Linked DNA regions of Homo sapiens: all the other regions are linked to region 1. Evidence: fine-mapped QTL for protein levels in blood plasma. A gene starts in region 1. Each other region holds a variant in brackets. All regions are shown on one strand. Distances are between the middles of the regions.

The links. PIP is the posterior inclusion probability: the model's chance that the variant is causal. The UK Biobank Pharma Proteomics Project read protein levels with antibody pairs (Olink). The fine-mapping took linkage between variants from a reference panel, not from the people measured, so its PIPs are less certain.
Region 2: its variant is fine-mapped to the plasma level of the VEGFD protein (UK Biobank, PIP above 0.99).
Region 3: its variant is fine-mapped to the plasma level of the VEGFD protein (UK Biobank, PIP above 0.99).

The regions. Positions count from the first base shown.
Region 1 is chrX:15,380,660-15,389,015 of GRCh38, reverse strand. VEGFD (vascular endothelial growth factor D) reads left to right here and starts at 4,603. Exons shown (of 7, transcript NM_004469.5): 1 at 4,603-5,159. The coding sequence starts at 5,070. It overlaps PIR (pirin), which reads left to right. Exons shown (of 10, transcript NM_001018109.3): 10 at 3,900-4,217. The coding sequence ends at 4,012. All of the region lies in intron 9 of PIR-FIGF (PIR-FIGF readthrough), which reads left to right.
Region 2 is chrX:15,416,252-15,424,251 of GRCh38, reverse strand. All of the region lies in intron 6 of PIR (pirin), which reads left to right. All of the region lies in intron 5 of PIR-FIGF (PIR-FIGF readthrough), which reads left to right. Among named protein-coding and RNA genes, the nearest start is that of VEGFD, 36 kb to the right of the region's middle. The variant C/T (reference allele first, on the strand shown) is at 5,752.
Region 3 is chrX:15,407,252-15,415,251 of GRCh38, reverse strand. It overlaps PIR (pirin), which reads left to right. Exons shown (of 10, transcript NM_001018109.3): 7 at 7,702-7,746. It overlaps PIR-FIGF (PIR-FIGF readthrough), which reads left to right. Exons shown (of 15, transcript NR_037859.2): 6 at 7,702-7,746; 7 at 7,870-8,000. Among named protein-coding and RNA genes, the nearest start is that of VEGFD, 27 kb to the right of the region's middle. The variant T/C (reference allele first, on the strand shown) is at 2,248.

The DNA.
Region 1 (8,356 bases):
TACACTGGGGTCATGTGGATCCTCTCCCAGTGGCTTGGAACACAGGGACACTAGGTATGCCTGCACATACAAACTCGGAGTAATCAGACAAAATAAATATGTCCCTTGAAAGTTCAGTTACTGAGAAGCAAAGCATTTTGTTTTTATTTTTTAACTTTTAAAAACTCAGACATTTAAGTTTTTCTTTTACTTATGTGTGTTTAAAGGCAGCCACAACCATCTCTTGATTGGGAACTTGCACAGATCTCATGAATTACCTAAGACCCTTTCTCCTCTTATCATCGTGTGTCCTTAATTATTCATCCACAGATTAAGCACAGGAAATCATAGAATGTTAGGATAGAAAATAACCTTAGCCATGATGTAGTCATGCCTCTTTTATAGATGAGGAAAATAAAATCCAGATATTTTATTTATTTACTTAATGGATGCTTGCATAGAATTTACTATTTCCTAGACATTGGTTAAAGCACTTTCCTAATGTTAATCCGTCTAACCTTCAAAACAACCCTATGAGGTTGGTACTCTCATGCCCATTTTACAGATGAAGAAGCAGAAGGTCAAAGGTTCATTGGCTTACTCAAGGTCACATAGCTGGATTCACACTCAGGCTGTCTGTTTTCCAAACACCCTGCCCTTCTGCCTCTTACCATGCTGGTCGTCCATTGCTCTGCCCTGTAGCTTCTCTAATGGAAAGCGATTGTTAGCAGTGGAGCTGGGACTCGAACCCTAGTCTCCTGACCCCATGTCTTATGTTCGCTCCACTATACCAAAGTTCTACATAACAAGAGGTTAGACACACCATTTTATACAAGAGGGGGGCTTCAGAGGCTTAATTAGAGAAGTGATGAAAGCTATAATTTGAAAGAGAATTATAGGTAACTATCAAATAATTTTCTTGTTCACAACCCTTGTAGTTGATCAATTTAAAAACATGCTTTCTGGATTCAGTTTTCTCCTTGAAGATTTGAGGAGATAAGCTTCATCAGTTAGCTTTAGGGGACTCTAAGCTTCCAATGCTTCCCTGTATAACAGAGGTTATACTTGTTTCCTAAAGTGTGGTCCATGGACCAGCAGTATCAGCATCACTTGGGAGATAGTTAGAAATGCAGAATCTCAGGCCTCACTCCAGACCTCCTGAATCAGAATCTGCATTTTAATAAGATTCCCAGCTGATTCATGTGCACGTTATAAATTGAGAAACATGGCAGACTACCCCAGAAAGTGTCAAAATGGAAGCCTAGAAGCACACCATTCTTACAGAAAACAGTTGGGGGATGGGAGTACTGCTCCACAAGTCCCAACCATAGCAAAATTATGAGGCACAAGAATTTGGTCCTTGACTCAGTACCTGCTCCCATCTTCCAAGTTGCATTTCCCTTTCCCCTGCGTGTCCTTTAAAAAGTTGTCTTCCCCAGGGTACCCTCTTGGGTTTATTGTTTATTCTGCATATGTTAACTCTCTTTTTCTTTCCTACCTGATATAGTCCAAACCTCCATTTCCAGATGAAATTTCTCTCATGAGCTCCAGATCCATAGTTTCAACAATGTACCAAAAACCTCTGCTTGGGAAACCACTTTATTGTCTCTAGTACTTCTATGTTAAAATACTCAGAACTGGGCCGGGCGCGGTGGCTCATGCCTGTAATCCCAGCACTTTGGGAGGTCGAGGCTGGCAGATCACTTGAGGTCAGGAGTTTGAGACCAGCCTGGCCAACATGGTGAAACCCAATCTCTACTAAAAATACAAAAATTTAGCCGGGCATGGTGGCACGTGCCTGTAATCCCAGCTACTGGGGAGGCTGAGGTGTGAGAATTACTTGAACCCGGGAGGCGGAGGTTGCAGTGAGCCAAGATCGCACCACTCACCACTGCACTCCAGCCTGGGCGACAGAGCAAGACTCGGTCTCAAAAAAAAAAAAAAAAAAAAAAAAAAAAAAAAAGAAAAGAAAAGAAAAACAAAACAAAAAATATCCAGAACTGAACACCTTGCTCCATCCAAAGCCTCCCACGTCCTGTATCTCAAATACCCTTAACAATTCCACCATTGACTCAGCCTCCCAAATTAGACACCTGCTCTTCTACCTTGATGCCAAAGTCTTCTTTAAAAATTATAAATCATATTATATTACTCCCTACTTAACCTTACAGTGATTCATAATCACCTGCAAAAGTAGGTCCAAACTTCTTCCTGTAGATTGCATCCAAAGCCCAGAAGGGTCTGGTTTCTTCCTATATTTCAGATCGCCATTTTTTCCGCCTTTGATCCCTCCTTCCACCACTGTACCCCTATCCCCTCCAGTATTCCTCCAGCATACTAAGCCTGAACATGCCTTTCCTCCGTGTGTGACTGCTCAAACATCACTCCCTCTGTGAATCCTTTCCTGGATTTCTCCTCCTCCCCCTTTCTGTGTTGATTTTATAGTTTTTACACTTTTATCCTTCCATATTTCAAACAGTTTTGTAATGATTTCTTTTCATATCTGTGTGATAGATTTGAATCCTTGAGGAGAGGGAGTCTGCCATTTATTTGTCTTTCATCTTTATGTCTCTAGCTTCTAGCACAATGTCTGTCATTTAATGGGCATTCAGTACATAATAGATAGGTAATTGAATGAATGGATTTAGATGCCTGGGTGTTTTCTTTCTACTTGTATTCTATTCCCCACATCCTCTCCAAAGATTTCAGCATCATCAAGACATATTATCCTGTGTCTTCCTTCTGAAGATTTAAATTATAGTGATCACCAAATCCATGTTGATATGATAACAATGGTTAAGAAGTTTGAATATGTTATTTTCTCTAAGCAATACAGTTGTATATTAATCAGAATCTCCCAGAGAAAGCCCCTTAGAGCAGGCAGTTCCATAAAAGGAATGTCAGGAACTTCTGCAGGCTGGATGAGGACATACACTGAGTGAACAAGTCTGTCAACTGCTCTAAAGACACTGTCAATGCCATATAAAAGCTGGCCTTGTTCATCTAGCAGATCATGGGGGTGAGACAGTCCAGTGCCTCTCTGCCCCTACAATATATGAAGAAAGGGGAAGAAACACACATTGCCTCCTGGTAGATTAGGGGAGGACTTCTTGTACATTTTTAGCAAAATCCGAGTTCAGACCCAGCAATTAGACAAAAGGGTCAGCAAACTATGGTCGATGGGCTACATCTGCCCACTGCATGTTTTTGTAAATGAAGTTTTATTGGGACACAGCCATACCTATTCACTTTTGCATTATCTATGGCTGCTTTTGCACTTTGATGAAAGAGTTGAGTAGTTGAGACAGACACTGTTTGACCCACAAAATCTAAAATACATACTATCTAGCCCTTCCTAGCAAACATTTGCCAACCCCTAGAAAACTTTTAAAAAATGATGCTCTTCGACTTGAAATTTTTATAATCTTCTGTTTATTGTCAATAGGTGCTGCTGATTTTCAAAAAATGACTTAGAATCCTCAAATAAGTATACAGCCTTATATGCTGCTTAGACACCAAAGCTATGATAAGATTTGTCAGTTCTTTGTATCAGATGGGTTCAATTCTTGACATCAGCTAATGTTATAAAAATAACTACAAAATTGGTTGTAATAGAACCAAATCTAAGACTCTTTTTAATAAAAAAGATCACCATTGCTGGTGAGAAACCTATACTGAATGGGTGAGATGCCATTGCATTTATCTGAAGTTTCGTCTTTATAATCAATAATCATATACAATCCTAGTCAAGAAACTCATCTTACAGTCCTTGGGGATTGAACACTGTGAAAATAAACTTTTACTCTTCGGATGTGCTTGGATTTTGTTTTAAATTAAGAACTACAGAAATATATATCATTTCTAGTGGTAGAGGAAAATATTGCCACCCAGAACTTTCTGAATGTCTCTTTCTGCCCTAGGTCCATTTGTGATGAACACCAATGAAGAGATTTCTCAAGCTATTCTTGATTTCAGAAACGCAAAAAATGGGTTTGAAAGGGCCAAAACCTGGAAATCAAAGATTGGGAACTAGTGGAAAGCGGAAGAGCAGGTCTTGATGTGTCCTAGAATTTTGCCATTTCTGAGATTGAGCCATTGAAGGCATTCCATTTCTAAAGCTTATTTAGCCGGTGCTTCTAAAGAATTCCACACTAACGTGATAACATGGTTTTTGTAACAATAAATGTAGGATATTTCCTGGCACATGCAAATAAACCTAATCATTGTTTCTTTAAAAATCAGTGTTTTTCATTTGAGATACCTAAGTTACTAAGCTTCTGTTTAAAAAGTCGTTTTGTGTATGTTTGCCTTTTTTTGCATGTATGGATGGATGTTTTTATTATTTTTGTGCATGTGCAGGTTTTAAAAATCATATTTGATTGCTTTCTGTGTGTCATTGGCAGCAGATGCATGAGCATCTGAGGTCCCTTCTTAAGCAATCCCACTGAGATACAAAGGTCAAAGCTATGTGCTGGGGTTTCATGTTACAGGTTATCTGCTTTAAAATAACGGCAGCCCTGAACATTTGAGTCAGTTCTTAAAACTGCCCTGCTATTGGTAGGGACGCAACAGGATTACAGCCAAGACTTCTCTGCATTTTCTGCCAAAATCTGTGTCAGATTTAAGACACATGCTTCTGCAAGCTTCCATGAAGGTTGTGCAAAAAAGTTTCAATCCAGAGTTGGGTTCCAGCTTTCTGTAGCTGTAAGCATTGGTGGCCACACCACCTCCTTACAAAGCAACTAGAACCTGCGGCATACATTGGAGAGATTTTTTTAATTTTCTGGACATGAAGTAAATTTAGAGTGCTTTCTAATTTCAGGTAGAAGACATGTCCACCTTCTGATTATTTTTGGAGAACATTTTGATTTTTTTCATCTCTCTCTCCCCACCCCTAAGATTGTGCAAAAAAAGCGTACCTTGCCTAATTGAAATAATTTCATTGGATTTTGATCAGAACTGATTATTTGGTTTTCTGTGTGAAGTTTTGAGGTTTCAAACTTTCCTTCTGGAGAATGCCTTTTGAAACAATTTTCTCTAGCTGCCTGATGTCAACTGCTTAGTAATCAGTGGATATTGAAATATTCAAAATGTACAGAGAGTGGGTAGTGGTGAATGTTTTCATGATGTTGTACGTCCAGCTGGTGCAGGGCTCCAGTAATGAACATGGACCAGTGAAGGTAGGTGAGCTCAATTTTTAATGTGATGAAGTTCTTTTTATTGGCTCATACAGAGGACTTTCTTTGCCCTCACTATTTTTGAAACAATATAAAAATGCAGAACCATCCTAGTAGTGGACTGGACAGGATATATCCTGCATTTCTTGGTGACTGTTCTGTTTCTTAGTCTTATTAAACTTCTGGCCATGAGTATTTGAAAATGCTGGGGTGGGGGTTGGTTGTTTTTTGAAGTTATGGTAGAACATGAGCAGTCTGGAATCTTTTTGGATGGAGAAGTTTCTCCTCGGTTGCATATGCAGATGGCACAGTGGTTTTTTAATGAAACATTGATTTGTTTTTATGACTGATAACTTTGTGGGCCATTTATTTTCAGGTCTTTGTGAGCAGCAGAGGTTAGTTTATTCGTTTGGTAAATTGAAAATTGCAGTGCTTTCTATGAACATTTTCTATCTGCTTTTGCAAATTACCAATTGCTGCCATCCAGAAAAATGTTTTCTCAGAGAGTGTTTGGTTTTTTCGCTTCTTGAAAGGTGTAAAATTCAACACTAATCAAATCTTTGGTTCTGTGAGCAAGCATCAAATAGAGCTTAACGAACAGAGAGTAATGCAAAAAATTAACCAGAATGTTGCTGACTGCTGGAACAATACTTAGCCCAATTTTATGCATTTCATGGATTATATATATTTTAAGCTTCTATTTTGAAAATGATTCGGATGTAATTGTTTTGACTGAAGTGGTGCTAAATCATTATTGATTTAGGAACTTCTGGCCTTGAAAAGACAATTAAATGTGAGTTTGAGTTTTTGTAGCTGTTGTTTAGGACGTGCATTTTCAACAGGGGTGATATCGCCCCCAGCAGGGGAAAATTGGTTCGTGGAGGGATGAAAAAGTTTTACCCTTTTGATACATCACGCACAGACGTACATACAGTACATATGGTATGTAGTTTAAAATACGTTATACATTCAAATTGCATAGGGGGAAAGTGTCTTCAAAGGCTCCTGGCTGGTGTTGGTGGCCTGGCGAGGGTGGGGGCTGATATTTAAAAATGTTGAACACTGAGCTGGAGGTGAGTGGGAAGTCACCTTGTCTGGCAGCCAGCACTTTTCTAACTTCTCAAATTCCAAATTTACATGGGAGAAATCACAGTGTTTGGCTCCATTTTACTGCCACCAGCCTTGATATTGGATCTCAAGGCCAGATTGTAGGTAAATGGGAATCTGACTGTAAGCATAGGTAACAGGAGAAAACGGTCTGACTTGTTTGAAGCAAGTAAGACTTTTCCGACTGTCCAGCTTTTTCGTAAGTTCATGAAACAGAAATCCTTTAGATGTGCTGGGCTCCTCGAGTTTTAAAATATTTCCATTTTCCTTGTAAAACATCACTTTATCTGATGGTATAATAAAGGAGACTGAATTGTTGGACATAAGTCATATTCTTTAGGTTGCTCAGCTCTTTCAAAGAGCACAAGCACCAAGAATGTCTCAGGTGTCCTGGGCACTGTGAAGTTTTATTTATTTATTTATTTATTTATTTGAGACGGAGTCTCACTCTGTCACCCAGGCTGGAGTGTAGTGATGCAATCTCAGCTCGCTGCAACCTCTGCCTCCCGGGTTCAAGTGATTCCCCTGCCTCAGCCTCTCGAGTAGCTGGAATTATAGGCACGTGCCACCATGCCGGGCTAATTTTTTGTATTTTTAGTAGAGACAGGGTTTCACTGTGTTAGCCAGGATGGTCTCGATCTCCTGACCTGATGATCTGCCCGCCTTGGCCTCCCATAGTGCTGGGATTACAGGCGTGAGCCACCGCGCCCGGCTGGCACTGTGAAGTTTTAAATGCTTTGAATGTACTGTTAATATATAAATTTGTTGAATGGAGTAACGAAGGAAAGCAGCTGAATTTGCATGTGACAGAAAACAAGTTGTTACACGTGGAGGATGCAGCATTATATACTTACTAATACGATTAGCAATTTTTTTTCAGAATATATCAGAATTTCCTTTAAAAAGTGAAGCTACATATACTGAACTTATATCCACCCTACCCCTCGCTCAATTAAATTATTTCTGATATGAAGGAAAGGATTGCCTATAGCTAAACAGAAGTTTTGGCATAGATATGACTGAGTGGTAAGGGATAATGAGATATATAATATTGGTTATAGTTTTCTTTTTTCCCCAACTTTTAAGAAAAGAAAATCTAAGAGGAAATAATGTTTCTAAATGTTAAAGTTCTTCTTGTTAAAATTAAAATGTAGTGTGAAAACATATTCATGGTGGTAATGGTTTAGGGTGGTGGTATTTGAATTTTTTGTTTTTTTTTTTTTACTTTTTGAAATAAAATGTTTTATTTATTATAAGAAATTCATGGTCTTCCTCGGTACTTGGTCCATATGTATTTCTTTCTCCTCACCCTCCCCTCTTCTAACCACCTCTTTTCCAGAATGGATGGTGATGCCAATTTTGCTCCTAGGTTGTCCTCCAGCCACCCCCAGCCCAGTTTTCACTTTCTAGCTTTGAAGATTGTCCAGTTTTCCAGCTTAGACTAGCATTGCCTCTACGATAGTTCTAGGTATCTGTGAAGATTTTTTTTTTTCCTGTAGCAATCATGAAATAGCTACTAGTGCTCTGGACGATTGTGCTTAATGCCATTTGGGTGTAAGGCCTCCTAATTTCATTAGTCTTACCACTTGTGTTTGCAAGGATAGCTGTTTGGAGTCAGCAGTGCATGGAACATGTGAACTGAGACAAATCTGTTTGAAAATCTCAACTTAAGATTTCAAATCCACTGTGTATACTATTTAGCTGTTAAGTTTCTCAGTCTAAGAAGAACACGTTTTCCTCTAGAAATAAGCTTAACCCAGTACCTATGCATCGTTCATTAATATAATCAGATTACGGCCTAGATGTGGAATTTATTTCTGTTTCTATTTTCTCCAGCTTTTTAATACAGCTCAGACAGTCATATACAGTTGTACACGATGTGCACTGCACAACTCTAGGGTGCTCCATGCATATAGACATATCTGTATGTGACAGCCCTAAGTACAATGTGGTAGACACTCTGGACATTTGGTAAATAAGTATCTACATCCTCACTCTTCTCTCATTCACATTGGCCTTCTGGCCAGCACTATTTCTGGTTTATTTAATAAACAATTCTTGTCCCCCAGAAATTCTGTGAGTCTTCTGAAGAT
Region 2 (8,000 bases), 35 kb before region 1:
AGGATTTCATTCTTTTTATGGCTGAATAATATTTCATTGTATATTTATATCACATTTTCTTCATTCATCTATTACTGGGCACTTAGGTTGATTCTACGTTTTGTACATTGTGAATAATGCTGCAATAAACATGGGAGTGTAGGTATTTCTTTGATATATTGATTTCTTTCTTTTAAATAGGTACCCAGTAGTTGAATTGCTGGATTATATGGTAGTTCTATGTTTAGTTTTTTGAGGAACCTTCATACTGCTTTCCATAATGGTTGTACTAATTTACATTCTCACTGACTGTATACAAGGGTTCCCCTTTCTCCACATCCTCACCAGCATGTGTTATTCCCTTTTTGATAACAGCCATTTTAACTGGGGTGAGATGATGTCTCGTTGTGGTTTTGGTTTGCATTTCTCTGGTGATTAGTAATGTTGAGCATTTTGTTCATACACCTATTGCCCATTTGTATGTCTTCTTTTGAGAAATGTCTATTCTGAGCTTTTGCCCATTTTTAAATTGGATTTCTTTTTGCTATTGAATTGTTGAGCTCCTTATATATTCTGGTTATTCATCCCTTGTCAGATAGGTAGTTTGCAGATATTTTCTCCCATTCTGTGGGTTGTCTCTTCACTATTTTTTTTTTTAAGACAGAGTCTTGCTCTGTCACCCAGGCTGGAGTACAGTGGTGTGACCTCTGCTCACTGCAACCTCCACCTCCTGGGCTGAAGCAATTCTCCTGCCTCAGCTTTCCAAGTACCTGGGATTACAGGTGTGTGCCACCACGCCTGGCTAATTTTTGTATTTTTAGTAGAGATGTGGTTTAACCATGTTGGCCAGGCTGGTCTTGAACTCCTGGCCTCAAGTGATCTGCCTGCCTCGGCCTCCCAAAGTGCTGGGATTACAGGCGTGAGCCACCGCACCCAGCCTCATGTTATTGATTGTTTCCTTTGCTGTGCAGAAGCTTTTGAGCTTGATATAATATCATTTGTCTATTTTTGCTTTGGTTGCTTGTGCTTTTGAGGTCTTACACAAAATATCTTTGTCCAGTCCAATGTCCTGGAGATTTTCCCCAATGTTTACTTGTAGTAGTTTCATATTTTGAGGTCTTAAATTTAAGTCTTTAATTCATTTTGATTTGATTTTTGTTTATGGCAAGAGATAGGGGTCTAATTTCATTCTTCAGCATATGAATATCCAGTTTTCCCAGCACCATTTATTGAAAAGACTGTCTATTCCTCAGTGTATGTTCTTAGCACCTTTGTCAAAAATGAGTTCCATTGATCCATGTGTCTGTTTTTATGCCAATACCATGCTGATTTGATTACTATAGCTCTGTAGTATAATTTGAAGTCAGGCAGTGTGATGCCTCCAGCTTTGTTCATTTTGCTCAGGATTGCTTTGGCTATTTGGGGTCTTTCATGGTTCCATATAAGTTTTAGGATTCATTTCTGTGAATGAGATTGGCATTTTGGTAGGGATTGCATTGAATCTGTACATTGCTTTGGGTAGTATTGTCATTTTAATGATATTAATTCTTCCAATCCATGAGCACAGAATAGCTTTCAATTTTTTTTGTGTCCTTTTCAATTTCTATCATCAGTGTTTTATAGTTTTCCTTGTATAGATTTTTCAATTCTTTGGTTAAGTTGATTCCCAGGTATTTTATAATCTTTTTTTGTAACCATTGTAAATAGGATTGCTTTCTTGATATTTTTTTCAGATTGTTCACTCTTGGTGTATATAAATGCTACTAATTTTTGTATGTTGATTTTGTATCCTGCAACTTTACCAAATTTGTTTATTAGTCTTAATAGGTTTTTTTTGGTGGAGTCTTTAAGTTTTTCTTAGTGTAAGATGATGTAATCTGTGAACAAGACTAGTTTGACTTCTTCCTTTCTTATTTGAATGCCCTTTGTTTTTTTTTTTTCTCTTGCCTAGTTGCTCTGGCCAAGACTTCCAGTATTATGTTGAATAAAAGTGGTTAAAATGGGCATCTTTTTCTTGTTCCAGATCTCAGAAGAATTCAGTTTTTCAACTGAATTCTTTCAATTTTTTCCCATTCAATATGGTGATAGCTGTGGGTTTGTCATAATAAGGCCTTTATTATTTTGAGGTACGTTCATTCTATACCCAGTTTGTTAAAGGTTTTTGTCATAAAGAGATGTTGAATTTTATTGAATGCTTTTTCAGCATCTATTGAAATAATGATGTTTTTTCTTCTTGATTCTGTTAATGTGATGTGTCACATTTATTGATTTGTGTATGTTGAATGTTGAAACATCTTTGCATCCTTGGGATGAATCACACTTGATCATGGTGAACAATCATTTTAAGGTGCTGTTGAATTCAGTTTGCTAGTATTTTGTTGAGAGTTTTTGCATCTATGTTCATCAGCAATATTGACTTGTGGTTTTCTTTTTTTGTTGCGTTCTTGTCTGGTTTTGGTATCAGGGTAATGCTGGCCTCATAGGATAAATTTGGAAGTACTCCCTCCTCTTCAGTCTCTTTGAAGAGTTTCAGTAGGATTGGTATTAATTTGTCTTTAAATGTTTGGTAGAATTCAGCAGTGAGGCCATCAGATCTTGGGCTTTTTTTTTTTTTATGGGAGACTTATTATGGCTTCTATCTCATTACTAGTTATTGCTTTGTTGAAGTTTTCTATTTCTTCATGGTTCAATCTTGGTAGGTTGTATGTATCCAGGAATTTATCAATTTTTTCTGGGTTTTCCAATTTCTTGGCATATAGTTGTTCATAATAGTCTCTAATGATTCTTTGTATTTCTATGGTCTCAGTTATTGTGTCTTCTTTTTCATTTCTGATTTTATTTATTTGGGTCTTCTCTCATTTATTCTTAGTCCAGCTAAAGGTTTGTCAATTTTATTTATCTTTTCAAAAAACCAACTTGTCACTTCATTGATCTTCTGTATTTTTTTGTCTCAATTTCATTTACTTCTACTCTGATCTTGATTATTTCTTTCCTTCTACTAATTTTGGATTCCATTCTGGCTATTTAAGTACAGAAAAATTTTAGATTAATTTGCTTAAACATAAGCCTTCACTATCCGTGATTTTTATAACATTAAGTGTATGTGTGCTTTAACCTTTTAGTGCAGTGCTTTTATCTTTAAACTTTTGAGTTGCTTTCCTCCAATCCCTTGTCCTCCCTTATCTATGTCCAGTACCCTCACTATATAGATCACAGATATATCCTTGAATTATATCTTGCTGTATTTTTCTCCACACTTATTTTTATACACTGACATATATGTGCATTCACATATATGCAAATATCAGGTTATTTTGTCATTTTAATAAAATGGAATCATAACTACTCTTTTACGTCCTATTTATTTGACTGAAAAATACTCATGGAAATCCTTCCCAGTTTACTTATATAGCTCCTTTTGTTTTGTTTTGTTTAAGAGACAGGGTTTCTCTGTGTCACCCAGGCTGGAGTAAAGTGGCACAATTATAGCTCACTGCAACCTCGAACTCCTGTGCCCAAGAGATCTTCCCACCCCAGCCTCCCAAGTAGCTAGGACTACAGGCACTCATCATTAATGGTGGCTCCTTTTAACAGTGATATTCTACATCATCTAAATACATACTATGATGTATTTAGCTATTTTCTATCAATGGGAATTCACTTTGTTCCTAGTGCTTGGCTACAGCAAACTGGTCTGCAATGAATACCTTGTGTATCTGCCTTCCCATGTGGAAATTTATTTTGATGAGACAGGTTTCCAGGGATGGTCACCAGATCTATGCATGCTTAGTTTTAAAAGACATTGTCAGGTTGCAATCCAAAGAGGCAGTCACACTTTCTATTAGCAGCATATAGAATACCAGTTTCTCCACAATCCCACTAGCAGGAAGTGTATGGTTCATGTTCATTTTTGCTCTGCTCTCAGACATCACCTTATATTGCCTCCTGAGAGAGAACGTATATCTGTCAGTTTCCAAAGCTGTATTTGCATTTTATTTTGTCATCATGAATTTTAAACCTGAGATTTGTTTTCAATCATGTTTTGTTGTTGTTGTTGTTGTCGTTGTTGTTGTTTTGAGATGAAGTCTTGCTCTGTCGCCCAGGCTGAAGTGCAGTGGTGTGATCGCGGCTCACTGCAACCTCTGCCTCCCAGGTTCAAGTGATTCTCCTGCCTCAGCCTCCCGAGTACCTGAGACTACAGGCGCATGCCACCATGCCTGGCTAATTTTTGTATTTTTAGTAGCGACGGGGTTTGACCATGTTGCCCAGGCTGGTCTTGAACTCCTGACCTCAGGTGATCCGCCCACCTCGGCCTCCCAAAGTTGGGATTACAGGTGTGAGCCACTGCGCCCAGCCTCAAACACTTTTTTTTTTTTGACACGGAGTTTAGCTCTTGTCGCCCAGGCTGGAGTGCAATGGCATGATCTCGGCTCACTGCAACCTCTGCCTCCCGGGTTCAAGCGATTCTCCTGCCTCAGCCTCCTGAGTAGCTGGGATTACAGGCACCCACCACCACGCCCAACTAATTTTTGTATTTTTAGTTGAGATGGGGTTTCACCATGTTGGCCAGGCTGGTCTCAAACTCCTGACCTCAGGTAATCCATCCACCTCGGCCTCCCAAAGTGCTGGGATTACAGGCATGAACTACCACACCCGGCCTCAAAAACATTTTTATAGGGATACAACAGGAAATAGCTTAGAATTGCACATTTAGCATTGAGCGTCTGTAAACCCACTTTAAACAAGTGCGTTATGAACCCAGCTATGAAGCAAAAGATCCTTTCTTTTCCAATACATCACTTTTAGTTATAGTGTTCTCTCTTTCTCAGTCTGTCTGTCTGTATCTCTCTCTCTCTCTCCCTCCCCTATCTCTCTCTCTGTCTTACACACACACACACACACACACACACACACACACACACACACACAGACTTATCCATGCTTCCACTGCATTAGGTGACAAATACAAAGTTTGAGGCTTCTCTGTTTAGTGCCTAACAATTAATTCAAGTATTATAAAGCACTCATTATTTGCAGCTTTGATAGTCCTGGCTGCCTGTCATCAGACATACTGGATGGTAAAATTATGCTGTATAAAGTTTATTATGAAGTAATTCAAATCAAGGTCACCATTTGTCTTTTTTTTTTTTCCACCTTTCCAGGTCAAATTCCATCATAAACTCCAAGGACTGTCTAGATTCTTTTTATTTGGGTGCTTTGTTGTATCAAATATTTCGTGAAATGTGTAGGCCATTGGCTGGGTCCTGGACATGTTTCGTTTATAATGTTTTGATTGTTTTGTTACTCATGGTAAAGGGATTTGACATGGATGTCTGGATTATGTTTGGCTTTTGGCATAAGCTTTGCAGTCTAACTAATTTAATGTTGACTTGGTTTTATCATTAACAGACTAATTGGATAGCAATAGAAGCATACACTGCTACCATCCTCTCCCTGATACTGGGAAAATGCATATATTCCAAGGGAAATCCAGTTAAGGGAGACTGAAAACGTTTCTCATGAATCAGACTAGGTTTTATCTGAGTTCCTTCCCATGAATACTATTTGAATCGATTTTTACCATCTCTTTATTTCCTTCAGGCTAGGCACGTTTCTCTTGGGTTGTGCTAATCTTGCAGAAAACAGATGTTTCATGCAGTGATGATTTGGAAGGCAGTTGATATCAGGAATTGAGCTGGACGGTGCATCACTTACAAAGAATCTAATTTGTCGAGTTTCTGACAGTACCAGATTCCTTTCACATTGGCCACA[C/T]GTTTTTTATATTAGATCTTGGCTAAAATAAGAGTAAGTAGTTTTTTAATGGTGACTTTTACCATTTCTTGCAAGGCGCAAGGCAATCTGACTTTCCTTTTGCTGTAAACTGATTTACAGATAACACTGTTTGTTACCATTAATTATGAAGGACATAAATCTATATTTCTAGGAAAATATCAGTCTTTTCCAAGAAACATGTGCCTTCTTGTCCTCATGTCCCCCTTGTCTTCTGACTGACTGTATCACAGTTTGGCCCTCAACAGCCACTCTGTTTATTTTCCTCATTTCCTTTTACAGCACCTTTGCCTCTAGATACTTAAAGGCAGGATCTGGAATGTTAAAAATGGAGAGCTGTTATGGAAAAAACTTGATTTTATGAACCTTTTTGCTTTTCCTCACCTTATAACTTTTCCTTTACAGTATATGTAGATCAATAAACAAAATTTATTTAGAAACCATATAGTCTACCCCTCTGTGGTAGGCAAAATAATGTCCCCCCAAAGATGTCCACGTCCCAGTTTCCAGAATCTGTGTATATGTTATGTTCCATGGCAAAAACGACTTTGCAGATGTGACTAAGTTAATGCTGCTGAGATAGGGAGATTAGCCTGGATGATGCAGGTGGACCCTGTGTCATAAATGAGAATCTAAATAAGAGAAACAGGGAGACAGGGAGTCAGAGTGAGAGAAGGACATGTGACAATAGAAGCAGAGGTCAGAGTGATGTGATTACTGGTTTTGAAAATGGAAGGGCCCACAAGCCAAGGATTAGTGGCAACCTCTAGAAGTTGAAAAAGGCAAGAAAACAAATGTCCCCCTACAGCCTCCAGGAAGAATACAGTCCTGCTTGATTTTAGACCTATGAGGCTCATTTTGGGGCTTCTGACCTCAAGAACTGTAAGATAAAAATTTTTGTTACTTTAAAGCACTAAGTTTTAGAGTAATTTGTTATAGCAGCAATAGGAAACTGATACACCAATATATTTTTGCTTCTGTGTTTATGGGGAAAAAAAAGGAAAGGAGCTACATCTTCCTTGATTAAAAAGTAGATTTTAATGCCATACATACAGTAGCTACTTGGTAAGTCACATTAGTATACATTTAAATAAATCTTATTGTATTAATTATCTATATGCTGCATAACAAATTACCCCCAAAACTTTGTGCCTTAGAACAACATGTATTGTCTTGCAATGTCTCTCAACTTAGCTGTGTACTGTTACAAGGCCACGATCAAAGTGTCAGCCGGAGCTGGCGCTGCGGCTCACACCTGTAATCTTAATACTTTGGTAGGCTGAGGTGGGCAGATCACTCAAGGCCAAAAGTTTGTGACCAGTCTGGCCAACATGGCAAAACCCCATCTCTACTAAAAATACAAAAATTAGCCAGGCATGGTCGTGCGGGCCTATAGTCCCAGCTACTGGGGGTGGAGGGGGGCGGGGATTGGCTGAGGCATGAGAATTGCTTGAACCTGGGAGGTGGAGGTTGCAGTGAGCCAAGATCACCCACTTCACTCCAGCCTGGGTGGCAGAGCTAGACTCTGTCTCAGAAAAAAATAAATAAATAAAGTGTCATCTGGGACTGTGGTCATCTCAAGGCTTGACTGGGAAGGATGTGCTTCCAAGCTCACACTCATGTGGTTGCTGGCAGCATTCAGTTCCTCAAGGGTTGCTGGCTAGAGTCTGCTCTCTTGTTTTTGGCCACATGGGGCTCTATATAGGGCAACTCACAACATGGCCTCTGACTTCATCAGAAGGCACAAAGATGAGCAAGTTGGAAGCCAGAGACTTTATGTAACCTAATCTCAGAAGTGACATTGCATCAGTTTTGCTATATTCTACTGGTTAGACGCAAGACTCTAGCCACAGCCCATACTCAGAGAGAGGGAATTATATAGGGCAATACGGGAGGCAGGATCAGGCAGACGTCTTAGAGTCGACCTCCACACTTATGATCTTGGTTGAAAGTACCACACATTTTTCCATATGGTCAATGACTCGAAAACAAGTAGTGATTTTTTTTCTCTCTCTCATTTGTGACTTTTAAAAATGACTGGAGTAAACCTCGAAAAATGCGTAGTGATTTTTTCCACAGGCTTCTTGCCTGTTTTTTCATAGTCTTTCTCTACTTTTAAGGAGAATGCCCCAAACATGAATGATTCATGTAGAATTTTACATTTTGAGTCTTTTCATAGAACGCAAAAGCCGATTTAATTCATGAGTAATTTTTTTGCAGAGCTCTCTACT
Region 3 (8,000 bases), 26 kb before region 1:
GAGGTAAGGATTATGATTACCTCATTTTTCAGATGAGGAAACTGAGGTACAAAGAGATTAAGTAACTTACTCAATATCAATTAGTTAGTGAGTAATGGGACTGAGTTTCTGCTAGGACTCTTAACTGCCATCTTGTCCTGCACCAAACAAAAACATGGACCTTTAGTGAACAGTACTCTATTAGTAGTGTCTTGGGCATATTGGTAAATAAATCCAAGATTTTGTACATAGGTTAGAAAAACGACTATTCTTGAAAATTTTAAATGAGTAATATCATCTCATTGTGTTGTGTTTTTCTGTTATGTCACCTTTAGGAGAAAACAGGTTAAATTGATGATCAATGTAAACTAAAAACCTATTCTAAGAATTTAAATATGTTTCAATTTTGGCAGGGGTGTATTTTTTTTCATATTTTACAGGGGCTTTTAAAAAATATTTTTCTCAGGCTGGGCATGGTGGCTCACACTTGTAATCCACACACTTTGGGGGACTGAGGCCAGGAGTTCGAGACAAGCCTAGGCAACAAAGTGAGACTCTGTCTGTAATTTTGAAAAAAGGCCTCTTTCTCTTAAAAACAGTTAGGTGTCCAAATACATCCTGAAGTAATCTTAGGGTTATTTATGACTTTCCCTGCTAATTTCAGGTTTCTATTATTTTTTGAACATGTATTTAATCCTTAAAGTTCTGTATATTTCAGATCTTAATAGTCTATAAACGTGGCTTCAATCTAAGTTCGAATGCCTAAACTAGTTTCTGTTTTAGAGTGCTAAAATAGAATTTTATGATTATGTCTACATTATTTGAATTATTTTCTGATTTTTTTTCTGAGCAATTAAAAATCAGTTGTGAATACTGTGTGTCTGAAGAGGAGACAAGTTCTGTTCAAATAAAACCAAGAAATAGTAGTAGCATATATTACTTTAGTTAAAAACTTTATTAAATGTCTTGATGAGAAAACCTCAATGCATCATTGTGCACTTAGTCTCTAAAGAGCAGGATACAATTATTATGTGTCGATTTTAAACTTTTTTTAAAGAACAGGATAAGCTTCTAGGGCATTCTAATAAGCTTCTAGGGCATTCTAATACATTTGTAGTACTATTGTATTAGCAAGAAAATAATCAGCAGGGTTTGCCCTCCAGCGGGCTAGGCTTCATTCTGGGCATGCAGAAGGCTGTATTCTGAGTTTACATTCTAGAGAGCTTATATTGCTTATATATTTCTCATTCAAAATGTTAAATTTCATTTATTTCTTAGCTTTCCTGTTAGCTTCTGATGCAATGAGTGTTCAGTATTATGAATGTGGACCAAACCATAAGACAGGGTTCTCCTATAGGCTGCAATTGTGCTTACTTAAAATATGGGATCCTGAGGGATGGCTCTTAATGTTATATGCCCATGGCTTATAAACAGCCTGTAGTATGATCGTTCTGTAATGTATAAAGTGCATTCTGAGTCTATTTTATTCTGGAAAACTAACTGTCTCAAGTGTTTTGATGTGTATACCATTTTGTTATATAGTTTGGCATTTTATTATTGGTGTCACTCATCAAATTTGGTAAAACGGGCATTCTCATTTTTTTCCAATGGAATTCTCACAAGTTCAGGTAATAACCTATCTCTCAGATTGTGGAGTTACAAAGTTGACATTTCTTTATCTTGCTGTTTATATTCAGTTATAAGATGGGGGTTAAATGCCTATTCTTGGCAAGCTAGTAGATCTTACGGTGAGCTGTTACTTGCTGTATGATCAGACAACCCAACTTATGTCACCAATTCTAGTCTGCAGTGTTTGGTGGGACACAGACAGCATCCTTAATGCCATGAGGTTCTTGATGAGGACGTTTTGGGAGACGTCGCAAAAATGTAGACTTCTTTTGGGAAATGATGACCCTGCTGAGCTTTGCTCCGCAGTCGAAGAGACTAATTGGCTTGGTGTGAGGTGGGTGCAGCAGGGAGCTTAGGGCCATCTCCATAGCAATGACCCTTCTCTGGCCTGGGTCACAGCCTCATCAGAATTGTGTAACGTCTCCACATGCACAGATTTGAAGGAAAGTGGAAAAAGAAGAAAGGGGCAGGAAAATGAACTGATATTTGTTAAATACCTCCTAAGTGCCTGGCATTGTGTAGAGAAGATTAAAAACATATAACACACATATGTATGTACAGATGTATAAGGACATTTATATATGTTTATACAGACATACAATAGAAACAGTATGTTTGATGTTTCCTCATTAGACTGTG[T/C]TCATCACAACAGCTCTGTGTTATACGTATTCATTCCTTATTTTACAAACCAGCAAAGAGGCTTGAAGAGATGAAGAGTCTGGTCCTAGATCTCCCTGAGGGTGATGCACTGATGTTGAAACAGGAACTTTCTGCCTGTAATGGTGTGTGCTCATTTTTGTTGCTGTTTCATGGTTGCTTAGTTGGTTTGTTTTCCGTGGTTCTCCACAAAGCCTCCTTTAAGGTTTGCTGCTGCGCTTTGTTTCCCCACTCCCCAAGAGAGAGTTGCATGGATAGAATTAAATATGGAGGCGGGGCAGGCAGAGAGGCCATGATACTGGAGAAATGTAGGACCATATTGAGAAGAGTTTGTCTGTCAGAAGTTTGGGCTTGTCCTGGGAGAACAGGGAGCCATTGAAGGATTTTAAGTGGAGATTCTAAAAAGGTGCAATTTACGCGTGTAGAAAATGGATTGGCAGCAACCAGTTAGGGGACTTTTTTTCACCTGTATGGTTTTTATCTTAAAGAAAAGATAGATATGAAATAAGTATGGCAAACATATATGTTCATTATTTCATCCTTTGTGCTCTTCTGAATTAAAAATTAAAGTATTGAAAATAAATGAAAATTCTCTAAATCTGGGAGGGACAGGGATTAGCAAACAATTCAGTCTAACGAAGAAACATCAAATAAACCCAAACTGAGAGGCATTCTATAAAATAACTGGTCTGTACTTTTAATGAAAGAAAAAGACTGAGGAACTGTTTCAAATGAAAGAAGATTAGACATGACAACTAAGTGCAGCGTGTGATCGCAGGTTGGGTCCTGGCCTAGAAATTTATTTCTCCTTTTCCATAAAAAGCATTACTCAGATGACTGACACAATTTGAATATCCGTACATAGATAGTAGCATTGTATCAATGTTAATTTCATAATTTCCATAAGTGCACTATACTTTTGTAAGAAAATATCTTTGTTTTTAGGAAATACATACTGAAAATTATTTCAAGGTAAAGGGGCTACATGTCTGCAAATTACTCTCAAATAGTTCAGAAAAAAAAAGAATGACATATATTTATAGCAAGAAGAATGATAAAGCATATATGTTAACATGTTAGCTTTGGGGGAATCTAGGTGAATGGTGTACAATAATTCTCTGTAGTATTTTTGCAACTTTTTGATATGTCTGAAATTATTTTAAAATAAAAATTAAAAAGAATTTGGTGGAAGGAGGAGCGGGAGGGAAGAACCAGGCAGGTCTGCCTCTTGTCCTAGGAGGCCAGGGTTGAGGTCCTAGATGAAGGAGTTACCTGCCAAAGCTGATGTGGGGACTTCCGGTGGCGGGGGGGAGGTTGCGGGTATGGGAGGAGGATCTTAGGGACCAGGGTTGCTTTGCGGTCTGGCAATTATGTGATCCAGAGTTTGTGAAGGGTTGCAATCTCTCCTTAGCCCAGTTGCCCTTATCTCTGTTAATGGTGTTGGTGTGTCACCAGGCCGTGTTTTTCTATTTTTTCTGCACATACAGGTGTAAGGAATACTTGTAAGTTCATTGGAATAATGAACTCCAAGACTGAGGCAGAAGGAAAATGACCCGGGTTAAGGCAAGGAATGTAGGCTGAGGAAAGCTCTCACTAGGGACGTTTGCAAGAATTAGGAGCCTCTCTGGAAATGAGAGCAACTGCCACAGAAAATGATTTACATATTTTTTAAAAGTTTTGGGTTTTTAATGTTTGGCTAAAGGAGGTCTGACTTAAAATGCGTTGCTGACTTAACTGTCCTAGGAGGCCAGAACGAAAATGTGACCTCCCTCCCAGCTCATTTTATTCATCACTGCCCAAGGGAAGGGAAGAGCTTTTCAGCTGCAAAGAGACAGTAGCTTGCAGACCATATTTGTAGGAGAAAGGAAAATGTAGCAGGGTGTGAACTCTGACAAAGCAATAAAAATTGGGGGATGACATCAATTCTTGGTGCAGGACATAAAAGTGGGAGGAGAGGTGAGGGAAGAAAGAAAGATGAGAAGGACCTGAAAATCTGACAAGAGATCTCTTCTGTGGCTGTTGTTAAACATATAGTAAGCATTCATGAAATTTGGCATTTGTTTTCTTTTGCAGCAAGCTGAAGAAACAAAGCTTAGTGGAAATTAAACAAATTAACAGAAGCAAGTGCAGATGGGCATCATGCTAAAAAGAAAGAAAAAAGTAAATTGCCTTCATTTCTATTCCATGCCCTCTAACACTCTGTGCTTTCCAATCAGCAACATGAGTTGTGTTATTACTGGCAAAGATGGACACTATATCCTAGCAGAAGACTTTTACAAGGAGTAAAAATATATGAACACACTTAGTAAATTGACTTAGGCCATTCCTTTAAGCAAATGTTTGGTCCTTCCAGATCATGTAAAAAGATAAAAAAGGAAAAAAAACAGATCTAGGCAATTATTTGTGGACTAGATTTCTGCTTGAAGGGTGAACAGGAAGCAAAGCAGGTGGAGGAGAAATGAGATTAGAACAATCAAAATGAACTCAAATAAAAGCCTGGTTGAACTATTGAGAGTTTTGAGGTTTTGTCAAATGTGGTAACCACTTTTTAATACCTTTAAACCGTGAATAGAGGATTCGTTGTATAAATTATGACATGTCCTTACAATGGAATGCATGCAGTTTTTCCCAAGGATGAGTTACTTCTCTATGTTTTGACATGGAAAGGTATCCAAAATAGAATATTGAGTTAGTTCTAGTTTTTTTGTTTTGTTTTGTTTTGTTTTGTTTTTTTCCGAGACAGAGTCTTGCTCTGTCGCCCAGGCTGGAGTGCTGTGGCGAGATCTCGGCTCACTGCAACCTCTGCCTCCCAGGTTCAAGCAATTTTCCTGCTTCAGCCTCCCAAGTAGCTGGGATTACAGGCACGTGCCACCACGCCTGGCTAATTTTTGTATTCTTAGTAGAGACGGGGTTTCACCATGTTGGCCAGGCTGGTCTCGAACTCTTGACCTCGTGATCTGCTCGCCTTGGCCCTCCGAAGTGCTGGGATTACAGGCGTGAGTGACCGTGCCCAACCTGAGTTAGTTCTAGTTTTTAAGGAAATAACTTATAGTGCATAAAAGAAAAAAAAAACTGAAAACACAGATACCAAATTGCTAACAATATTTATGTCAGGGTAGGAATGAAGATTGCAGAAAGATTTTCAGTTTAGATGTCCCACACTTTCATATTCTTAAAATATTTTTAAATTAATGTGTTTTTTTATAATCAGAAAAAATGAAGCTATTGGTGCTCTGAAAAAGAAAAACAATTGTGGCGAAACTTTTGAAAAAGCAGAGAAGAAAGGGGTTTGGTTGTAGAGTATGATTACAAGTCAGGCTAAATAGAAGTAGAAAAGCTCAGCATTCATTAGAAAACAAAGAAAGAAGTGCTCCAGCAGAGCCAGCCCATCCAGATAAGACATGGGATCTGGCTGTAAATTATTAGTGTGTGTTTTCAGCATCTACCATGGACCTCCCCCCGCCAAAGGTGCACAATTTGCACACCCCGGCTATGCCTTATTCATTTTTGTATCTTCCTCTAAAGTACATGCCCATGGTAGATGTTCAGTAAATGATGGTAGACAAAGCTCGGAAGACTAAATATGAGTGGGTTAAGATGGGAGAAAAACGCCTGTAATCCCAGCACTTTGGGAGGCCGAGGCGGGTGGATCACGAGGTCAGGAGATCGAGACCATCCTGGCTAACATGGTGAAACCCCGTCTCTACTAAAAATACAAAAATTAGCTGGGCATGGTGGCGGGCGCCTGTAGTCCCAGCTACTCGGGAGGCTGAGGCGGGAGAATGGTGTGAACCCGGGAGGCGGAGCTTGCAGTGAGCGGAGATCGCACCACTGCACTCCAGCCTGGGCAACAGAGTGAGACTCCGTCTCAAAAAAAAAAAAAAAAAAAAAGGGAGAAAAACGAGTAAGCTATGAATAAGTAACATTACTTTCAGAGAGCTTAAACTCATTCTAGTAAAATCTCAGAGAGGAAAAACTGTGAAATAGGGGGATGGGAAAATATTCTCTGGCACTTGCTCATGTGTGTTTGTTTTGCCATCCTTCAGATTTTCTTAGTGAGACTTAATTTATGTTTTCTCAGTTATAGCTTTTCTTTTGTATCCAGTTGAACGTTTCAAGCCATCTGCCATGACAGTCATATCTTTGGAACATATTTTGGCCTCCTTGCTCCTTCTGCACTCGCCTTTGTTTACCCTGTCATCACGCTGACTCCTCCAGAGACTCCAGTGTGGGCTCTGTCCTTCCAGCATTGAACTGTGCCCTGCATTCTCTTTCCAGATCTCCTTTTCCACTGAAGGCACATGGAGGGATATCATGATTCCATTTCGACTGTGCCTTTTCTAGGTTCATATCTCTCAGTGGAAACACAGCATCTCTTCTGAGCCATGGGTACAATATATAAACATCTATGAAAATCAAGTGTTGGTGCTGAGAGTGCAAATAGCCTATTGTGAGTGATTTTGATTTCTTGGCCCCATGGGTCATGGTAGGAATCTGGTGAATTCTATATACTCTCTTTCCAGAAAAGTGTACACACTTGAAAAACTGTGAACAATTCCAGGGAGTTCACAGGCCATCCTGGAGCCCATTTATATCCCTAAGATTATGTATTCCTGCATCCCTGGAACTGATGCATATTCTGTTAGGATAGAATAAAAGAAGGAGTTCACTGGAACCAGAATGCAACTAGAATGCACTGGAACTAGAATGCAACTAAGTACAAAAAAGCAGGCCGGGTACGGTGGCTCACACCTGTAATCCCAGCACTTTGGGAGGTCAAGGCGGGCGGATCACCTGAGGTCAGGAGTTTGAGACCAGCCTGGCCAACATGGTGAAACCGCATCTCTACTAAATAATTTTATAAATACAAAAATTAGCCAGATGTGGTGGCGTGTGCCTGTAATCCCAGCTACTAGGAAGGCTGAGGCAGGAGAATCGCTTGAATCTGGGAGGCAGAGGTTGCAGTGAGCTGAGATGGCACCACTGCTCTCCAGCTCAAAAAAAAAAGCATATTTCTAGCATCAGCTTCACACTTCAGACACACTGGAGGCACAACAAATGGAAGATAAAGCCAGACTGGAGTGTTGCAGTTACTATCATAACATTACAACTGGAAGGAATAGTTTGTTTGGTAATACAGCTTGTAGCCTATAGATACACAGCCAAGTGAATTGTACACTGTACTTTGGGTGCTTCTTAAATATTTGGGACCAAGTCATTTAGGTTTAGGGGTATGTCTGTGTTTGTGTGTGAGAAAGAGAATGAGTGTCAGTGTATATTTTAAACAGTTCACAGAACTTAAATCTTAAAATGTCTATCTAAAGGGAAAAAAAGGATTTCGTCTCCAAATTTATCTTTGTGTTTGTAATACGTATATGTCTTTGTTCCTTTTGGCATTATGGACACTAACATGTTAATGTTGCTGGTCCTTTCCAGGGTGGACAAGCTTCATTTACACGATATCTGGAGATGTGTATATTGGTAAGTTATGGCTGTGTCACTTAGGGCTCAATTGCAATTTAATTTAAACTACTGAAGGGAGAAAAGGTAGGATGACACCATTTTATGTAATTGAATACTATGCCACCTTCTCTCCTACACTAGCCCTCTCTATATCCCAGCACAGGTATGCCCAGGGCAGGGTGCCTTTCAGCTTACAGAACATTCAGTGAGGGAAGAGAATATGAACACCAGTCATGACACATCCTGTGCACAGATGAAAGTCCAGGCACCAT